Linked DNA regions of Homo sapiens. The protein of the gene in region 1 interacts with the protein of each later gene in a pairwise test. Each region holds a gene or a part of one and is shown on either strand. Other genes may lie near its edges. The genes, in order: PBX3 and DGAT2L6.

Region 1 (3,833 bases):
GTCATGTAAGTTACACTAGACACAAAGTGTGTACCACTGTGGATAAACAACAACAGGCACAGACTCAAAAGAGAATCCAAATACAAACAAGCAAGGTGCCAACTTCCTTTTCCCCTCTTCCCCAAGAAGCCTTGTAACTAGTGTAGGGAACCTGCTTTGAAGCAGATTTACAGAGGTTAATTGGGCTGGGATGTTTTAGATTATGTTACACATTAATGAAAATGCTGATTTTGAGCTGTCATGACTCCAATGCTTTTTATACCATGATAATTATTTTAAAACTTTGTCTTCTGTGTTGTTGAAAACATTTTGGCAGAAAGCCTGTGTGACCTGATTAAACCTATGAATTGTCAGCTATGATCTATAGTACTCAGAAGAGGTTGCTGACTGGGCATCACTTAGGAAGTTCTTGATTTAAAAGCAAAATTAGATTGAGACTACTGTGCCCAGCACTGTATTGCCATGTCAATGGCACATTTTTAATACTGTATTTAGTATCCTCGTTTTATAGTTTGCTGGCAATTGCTTAACAATATTCATTTAATAATATATATATATTTAAGTATAGCCAGTTACCTCATAATGTGTGTATTCCTCTTCTGAAATCACACGATGGAAAAGCTCATCTAATGTTGTTTATTTTTCAATTTTTGATTACAGCTTGTGAATTAACTATTTTATGGGAATTTTAATTCTGTTTCTCCAACTGTACAGAGAGAGACAGAATAACCACCTTTGGATGAGTTGTTTTATATCCCTGTAATTATTTTCTTTCTTTCTTAAAACATTCAATTTTTTACCCTCTTCCCATTTTATGCTTAAATTATCTAAATCTGGGAAGCTTGAATGATTAAAATATTCCAGGAAGCCAGGGTTACCTTTTTCTAAGGATCTAGTCTGTGGTAAATTGAGGCGGTGGGGGGGTATTTAAAATTCTAGGGTGCATGTAAACACTATCTTAAAAATAATTTTCATACTTATTCAAACTTACCGATCAAATGTGAACAATGAAGTTCTCAGCATGAATTGTAGTACACTGATGTTGTTTGATCATTTTCTCGAATAAACAAAATACTCACACTATTTGTCCTCTGTTTCTCGCTTCTTCTCTCTCTGTCTCTCTCTCTCTTTCCTTGAAGGTCTCAGCATCAGAGGAGCCCAGGAGGAGGACCCTCCCGATCCCCAGCTAATGAGACTGGACAATATGCTTTTGGCAGAAGGGGTTTCAGGTCCTGAGAAAGGTGGGGGATCGGCGGCAGCAGCTGCAGCCGCGGCAGCCTCTGGAGGTTCTTCAGATAACTCTATTGAACACTCAGATTACAGAGCCAAATTGACCCAGATCAGACAAATCTATCACACAGAACTGGAGAAATATGAACAGGTCAGCAGCCGCCACTCTCATAGTCCTACACAAACCCTCTGTTGCTCTTCTATTAGACCATGCTAACCAATTCTGAGGGCTGTGAGGGGTAGGTGTTAACACAAATTACAAAATAAATAAGGTCAGTGCAAAAATCCAAGTGAATTGTTGGATTCATGAAAGGAAGACCCTTTGAGATTTTGGAGGAGGAGCGCTACCTATTTTATCCCATCTACTTGTTTTAGTTTTATTCATTCCGCACATTCACGTGCCCTTATTACCACACCTGCAGTCATTCTTCCCTCTCACCTCACCACTTGGTGCTCTTCAAAGCTCTGTATAATTAACATTTATGCACTAGCCTTGTTCATAAGCTTTAATCACTTTTGAAGGGAAGCATTGCACAGTGAGCTTTTCCCTCCTATGCTGTGAGCTCCAGAATCCTCCTGGGAATTAATTCTTATGGATTGTGCCAGACTATAGGGAACTTCACCAAGTAAGCAGGTTCCGGCCTGTTTCTCTGAGTATGAGACCTCCCAAGATAATTATGGGTACCCCAGGACAGGGAATGCTAGGCAAGGCATTATGTGCTAAATTCCTTATTAGAAAGAGAATATGGGTTAAAAATCTGGTTCTCAGCAATTATATTAACCATACTGAATCTCAGATAACTTTAAGTTGCATCTTTATGTAACACCAAGAAAAAATTAATACTGCTAGTTTAACTATAAAATATTACTGATTATAAAATGCTTTCACATTTCAGAGATGTTAAAATGTGGAGAAAAACAAGAGAGTCTTAGATTTAATGTAATAAAGTAAAATATTGGTGGGTCTTTTTACATATATTTTAGTTGTTAGTTTAATGCTGAAAAGCTGCCAAGTTTGAGGAATTCTCATTTGATAAGATTTGTCATTTGGAAGGTAATTTTAAAAACGTATTATGAAACATTTTATAATACATGTACACAAAAATAATGAGAATAGTATTAGATTGAACCCTATGAAATTGCTAAGTTTTGAGGCCAAAAACAGTTGAATATGGTAATTTCATAGAGTTCAACCCCAAATAAGGAATCAGAATCAGCTAGATACTTTTTACCCAGATAAACAGTTATCAACATTTTGCCACTCTTATTTTGTGTACCCAGCCCCAATTTGGTAAGAGTATTTTAAAGCAAGTCTTAGACATCCTATAATTTCACCCATGAGTATTTCACTATGTAGGCAAGTACTTTTTAAAGTCCACACACTTTAGTGTGAAATGGGAGTCCTGGTGAGTTTTGTGTGTGTTTGTGTGTATTTTAAAGACTCTTTTAAAGAGGAGTTTTAAGTTCACAGACCAATTTGAGAGGAAAGAAGAGAGATATCACATATACCTCCTGTCCCCACACATGCATAGTCTCTCCCATTATCAGCATCCCCCACCAGAGGGGTTCATTTGTTAAAATTGATTAACCTACATTGACACATCATTATCACCCAAAATCCATAGTTTACATTAGGGTTCACTCTTGGTATTGTGCACTCTATGGATTTGGATAAATTTATGATGGCATGTACCCATCATTATAGGGTCATGCAGAGTATTTTCACTGCCCTAAAGATCCTCTGTGCTATTCATCCCTCTCTTCTTTTATTCTTTCCTTCCCACTGATCCCTGGCAACCCCTGATCAGTTTTAATACTGATTTTTTCCCCTCTACATTCCCTGTATAGTTTCAATTATATATATCGTTGTTTTTTCACATTGCCTTTTCTAATATTCTGGATACAATGGTATTAAGCAAATGCTGAATCCTATCCCAGAGGTGAGTGTGTTTTGAGGAAGAGTAGAAAAATTTGTATAGCTTTAAGTTAAAAAGTAGTGTAAATTAATATTATAAGGTGTTTTCTATTTTTGGAATAGGATTTTCTGAGATCTAAAATTGTATGTCTAGTCTCATTTGTAAGAATAACTTCTTGTGGAAAATGTACAAATAAGAATTTTGGAAAAATTATCGTGTGTATGTATGTAAAAATCCCACTTTCTGATTTGACATATGAATAATTGAGAGTAAACAAAATAAGTCATGGTTGAAAAGGTTGCCCCTGAGCATAAACAGTAGAAAATGACTCTTATTTGTAGTATAATCCTAATTGTATAACTTTATGCTAAAATAACTATAACTACTTACTAGATAAACACTACCAGTCACCTTGCATGGAAAGAGATATAATATTAGAGGCCAAATGGCCTGAGTTTTTTGGCTGAGGAATTAAGGTGATTCCTTACTACCTCTTGCCATGTGTCTTTACACCTGCCTCCTTACTTTCTCCATACACTCTGGTGGAAGTTGTGTGAAGCTGGTGTCAGTCAATGACAAGGTCCTGAGTCTCACTGTTTTAGAAATATCCTACAAAATTTTCCATGAGATTTTATGTAACTTTAGCCCCAGCTTATACCAGCATCAAATCACCAGGGTTTTTTTTTA
Region 2 (3,833 bases), on another chromosome or scaffold:
TTGCATTTTGGACATAAATGAAAATAGCAGGAAAAAGGCTGAGTGGACAGTGCTTTAAAAAGTCATGTTATGGAGTAGAAGAAACCTTTGTAATAGGCTGAATTGCCCTCATAAGCACTGGTCGAGATAGTTGTTGTAAGCATTCAAATTAGACAGGAAAGCGTGGTGGGAGGAGTTTTATGGGAAGCCTGCCATGGAGAAAAAGCCTTGCTATCTATGCCCTTCATCAAAGAGGAGAGTAAATTTGCCAGTTAAGCTTCAGAAGGAAATTCAGATAAAGTTAAATAAGAATAATCACTAATTAAAGTTAGCCTAAGTGTATCATTTCTTTTATATTTTGTTTCAAATAAATTTTGTTTGTTTCCCCAGTATTTAGAAGAGAGCTTGGCACACAGTAGGTGTTCAACAAATATCTGTAGACCAATTGAAAACGAAATAAGCAAATGTTTTCTCTTTTCAGTAGTAAACTTGATAATTACTATTTAGTCAGCATGTATAGTGTTATTTAAATGTGATGTTATTTTAAAAGCATAGACGGATTAGTTGTGTGCCTTTTATCTGATTCATTCATCCACCAGTCCTAAAGGCGGTCTAAGAGCCCTTACCTGGGTAACACCATCCCCCTTGTGGAACCTATTGGAACTGCAGATATGACCCGGCAGGAGACGAGGAACGTTTTTTTCAGAGCAAGGCTTCCAGACCCAGCCCGAGTGTCATCAGTGTCGTGCACGGTAACAAAAGTGGAATTTAAAGATATAGGAGAAATAGAAGCCAAATGTGGAAGAGCTAAGTCTCATGTAAAAAGAGTTCCGTGACATAAAGCAAGGGTATCTGAAGAAGGAATGATGAAGAACAAGCATTTATGTATGTGTGACACTCCCTTAGGTATTATGGCCTTGACACCAGAAGATGGTTCCAATTTCTCTTGTCACGTTCAAGTGAGGCGTCTTGGAGAGGGTTATCAAAGAGGAAGTTCACATAGGTAGGCTCCTAATTTAGTTTGTAGTGAAGATGGCCAAGCCATTCTAATATATGTGCACTGGGGGAAAAGAAAAGAAAAAAAAAGAAGAAAAAAAAACTAATATATGCGCATTGGTAGCTCATCATAATTTTAACTTGCATTTCTCCAATAGCTAGTGATGCGTAACAGCTTTTCATGTGCTTGTCTGCTTTCTGTATATCCTCTTTGGTGAAGTGTCCATTCAAATCTTTTGCCCATTTTTCAATTGGGTTGTTTTCTTACTGTTGACTTTCGGTAGTTCTTTATGCATTTTGGATATAAGTTTTTTTGTCTGATATGTGATTTGCAAACATTTTCTCCTAATCTGTGTCTATCTTTTCATTCTTGTTAACAGGGTCCTTTTTACAGCAAAAGCTTTTAATATTGATGAAGCCCAACTTATTAATTTTTTTTCTTTTATAGATTGTGCTTTTGGTGTCAAACTGAAAGAACTCTTTGTCTAACCTCATGTCATGAAGATTTTTCCCCTATATTTTCTTTTCTTTTCTTTCTTTCTTTTTTCTTTTTTTTTCTTTTTTCTTTCTTTTTTTTTTTTTTTTGAGACAGGATCTGGTTCTGTCACCCAGACTGGCGTTCCATGGCGTGATCTCGGCTCAACTCACTGCAACCTCCGCTTCCTGGGCTCAAGCGATCCCCCCACTTCAGCCTCCAGAGTGGCTGGGACTACAGGAGCATGCCACCACACCCAGCCAATTTATTTTGTATTTTTTTGTAGAGACAGGGTCTTGCTATGTTGCCCTGGCTAGTTTCAAACTCCAGGTCTCAAGTGGTCCTCCTGCCTTAGCCTCCCAAAGTGCTGGGATTACAGGTGTGAGCCACTGCCCCTGACCTCCCCTGTGTTTTCTACTAAACATTTTACAGTTTTCTTTTTTTACATTTAGATCTACAATACACTTCAAGTTCATTTTTACCAGTTTTATGGAGGTATAATTTACAAATAAAAATGGTGTATATTCAATGTGCACAATGTGATGATTTGAGACAGGTATACATTGTGTGATGATTACAACAATCAAATTAATCAATACATTCACCACCATACATAGTTACCCTTTGTGTGTGTTTGTGGCTAGAGGTGAGGATACTTAAGATCCACTCAGCAAATTTCAAGCATATAATACAGTATTATTAATGCTGCTATACTTTAGATTCCCAGAAATTATTCTTTTTGTAACTGAAATTTTGTGCCCTTTGACAAATTTTTCCTTATTTTCCCTCTGCCCCAGCTCCTGGCAGCCACCATTCTATTCTCTGCTTCTATGAATTTAATTTACATTTATTTACAAATATATATATTTAGAGACAGGTTCTCTCTGTGCTGCCCAAGCTGGTCTCAAATTCCTGAGCTGAAGTGATGCTCCCACCTCAGCCTCCTGAGTAGCTAGGATTACAAACATGTGACACCACATCCAGCTCTAATGAGATCATATGGTATTTTTCTTTCTGTGTCTAGCTTATTTCACTTAGCATAGTATCCTCCTGGTTCATCCATGTTATTGCAAATGGCAGGATCTCCTTTTTATGGCTGAATAATATTCGTGTGTGTGTGTGTGTGTGTGTGACACTTTCTTTATTCATTCATCTGCCAGTGGACACTTAGGTCGATCCCACGTCTTGGCTATTACTAATAATACTGCAGTGAACATGGGGGTGCAGATATTTCTTCAAGACACTAATTTCATTACTGTTGGAAACTCCCCACTATTTTCCATACTGGTTGTAACAATTTACATACCTACCAACAGTGTACAAAGATTCCCTTTTATCTATATCCTCACCAAAACTTACCATTTGTCTTTTTGATAATAGCTATCCTAACAGGTGTAAGGTGATATCTCACTGTGGTTTTGATTTGCAGCTCCCTGATGACTAATAATGTTGAGCCCCTTTTCATATACCCTTTGGCTATTTGTATGTTTTCTTTGGAAAAATGTCTATTCAAGTCCTTTGCCTATTAAAAAGTTTATGTTATTTTATTTTTTTCTATTGAGTGGTATGAGTTCTTTATATATTTTAGAGATTAACCCCTTATAAGAGATATGGTTTGCAAATATTTTCTTCCATTCTGTGGGTTGCCTTTTCATTTTGTTGATTGTTTCCTTGGCTAGGCAGAAGATTTTTAGTTTGAGGTACTCCTGCTTGTTTATTTTTGCTTTTGTTGCCTGTGCTTTTGTTGTCATATCCAAAAAATCATTGTCAAGGCCAATGTCAAGGAGCTTTTTCCCTATATTTTCTTTTAGGAGTTTAGTGATTTCAGGTCTTACATTTAAGTCTTTAATCCATTTTGAGTTAATGTTTGTGTATGTCATAAGGTAAGAGTCTAGTTTCATTATTTTGCATGAGGATGTCTAGTTCAACACCATTTATTGAAGAAACTATCCTTTTCCCATTGTGTATTCTTGGGACCCATTTCAAAGATTAGTTGACTATAAATGCATGGGATTATTTCTGGGCTATCTATCTTATTTCATTGGTTTCTGTGTCTGTTTTTATGTCAGTACCATAGTGTTTTGATTACTATGGCTTTGTAATATAGTTTGAAATCAGGAAGTGTGATGCCTCTAGCTTTGTTTTTCTTTCTCAAGATTACTTTGGCTATTCAGGGTCTTTTGTTGTCTCATACAAATTTTAGGATTTTTTTATGTTTCTTTTAAAAATGTCATTGGAATTTTCATAGGGATTGTATTGGATCTATAGCTCACTTTGAGTAGTATAGACATGTTAATAATGTTAATTTTTCCAGTCCATGAACACAGGATATCTTTCAACTTATTTGTGGCTTCTTCGATTTTTTTCAATGTCTTACAGTTTT

What was found.
Region 2: the proteins of PBX3 (region 1) and DGAT2L6 interact in a two-hybrid assay, tested with the Homo sapiens proteins (one large-scale study listed by BioGRID).

What each region holds. Positions count from the first base shown.
Region 1 is NC_000009.12:125,914,547-125,918,379, forward strand, and holds part of PBX3 (pre-B-cell leukemia transcription factor 3), read left to right. Parts: intron 1-1,139; coding exon 1,140-1,381; intron 1,382-3,833. UniProt on the Homo sapiens protein: Transcriptional activator that binds the sequence 5'-ATCAATCAA-3'.
Region 2 is NC_000023.11:70,194,214-70,198,046, reverse strand, and holds part of DGAT2L6 (diacylglycerol O-acyltransferase 2-like protein 6), read right to left. Parts: intron 1-3,833. UniProt on the Homo sapiens protein: Diglyceride acyltransferase that uses fatty acyl-CoA as substrate. Particularly active with oleate as a substrate. Has no wax synthase activity to produce wax esters.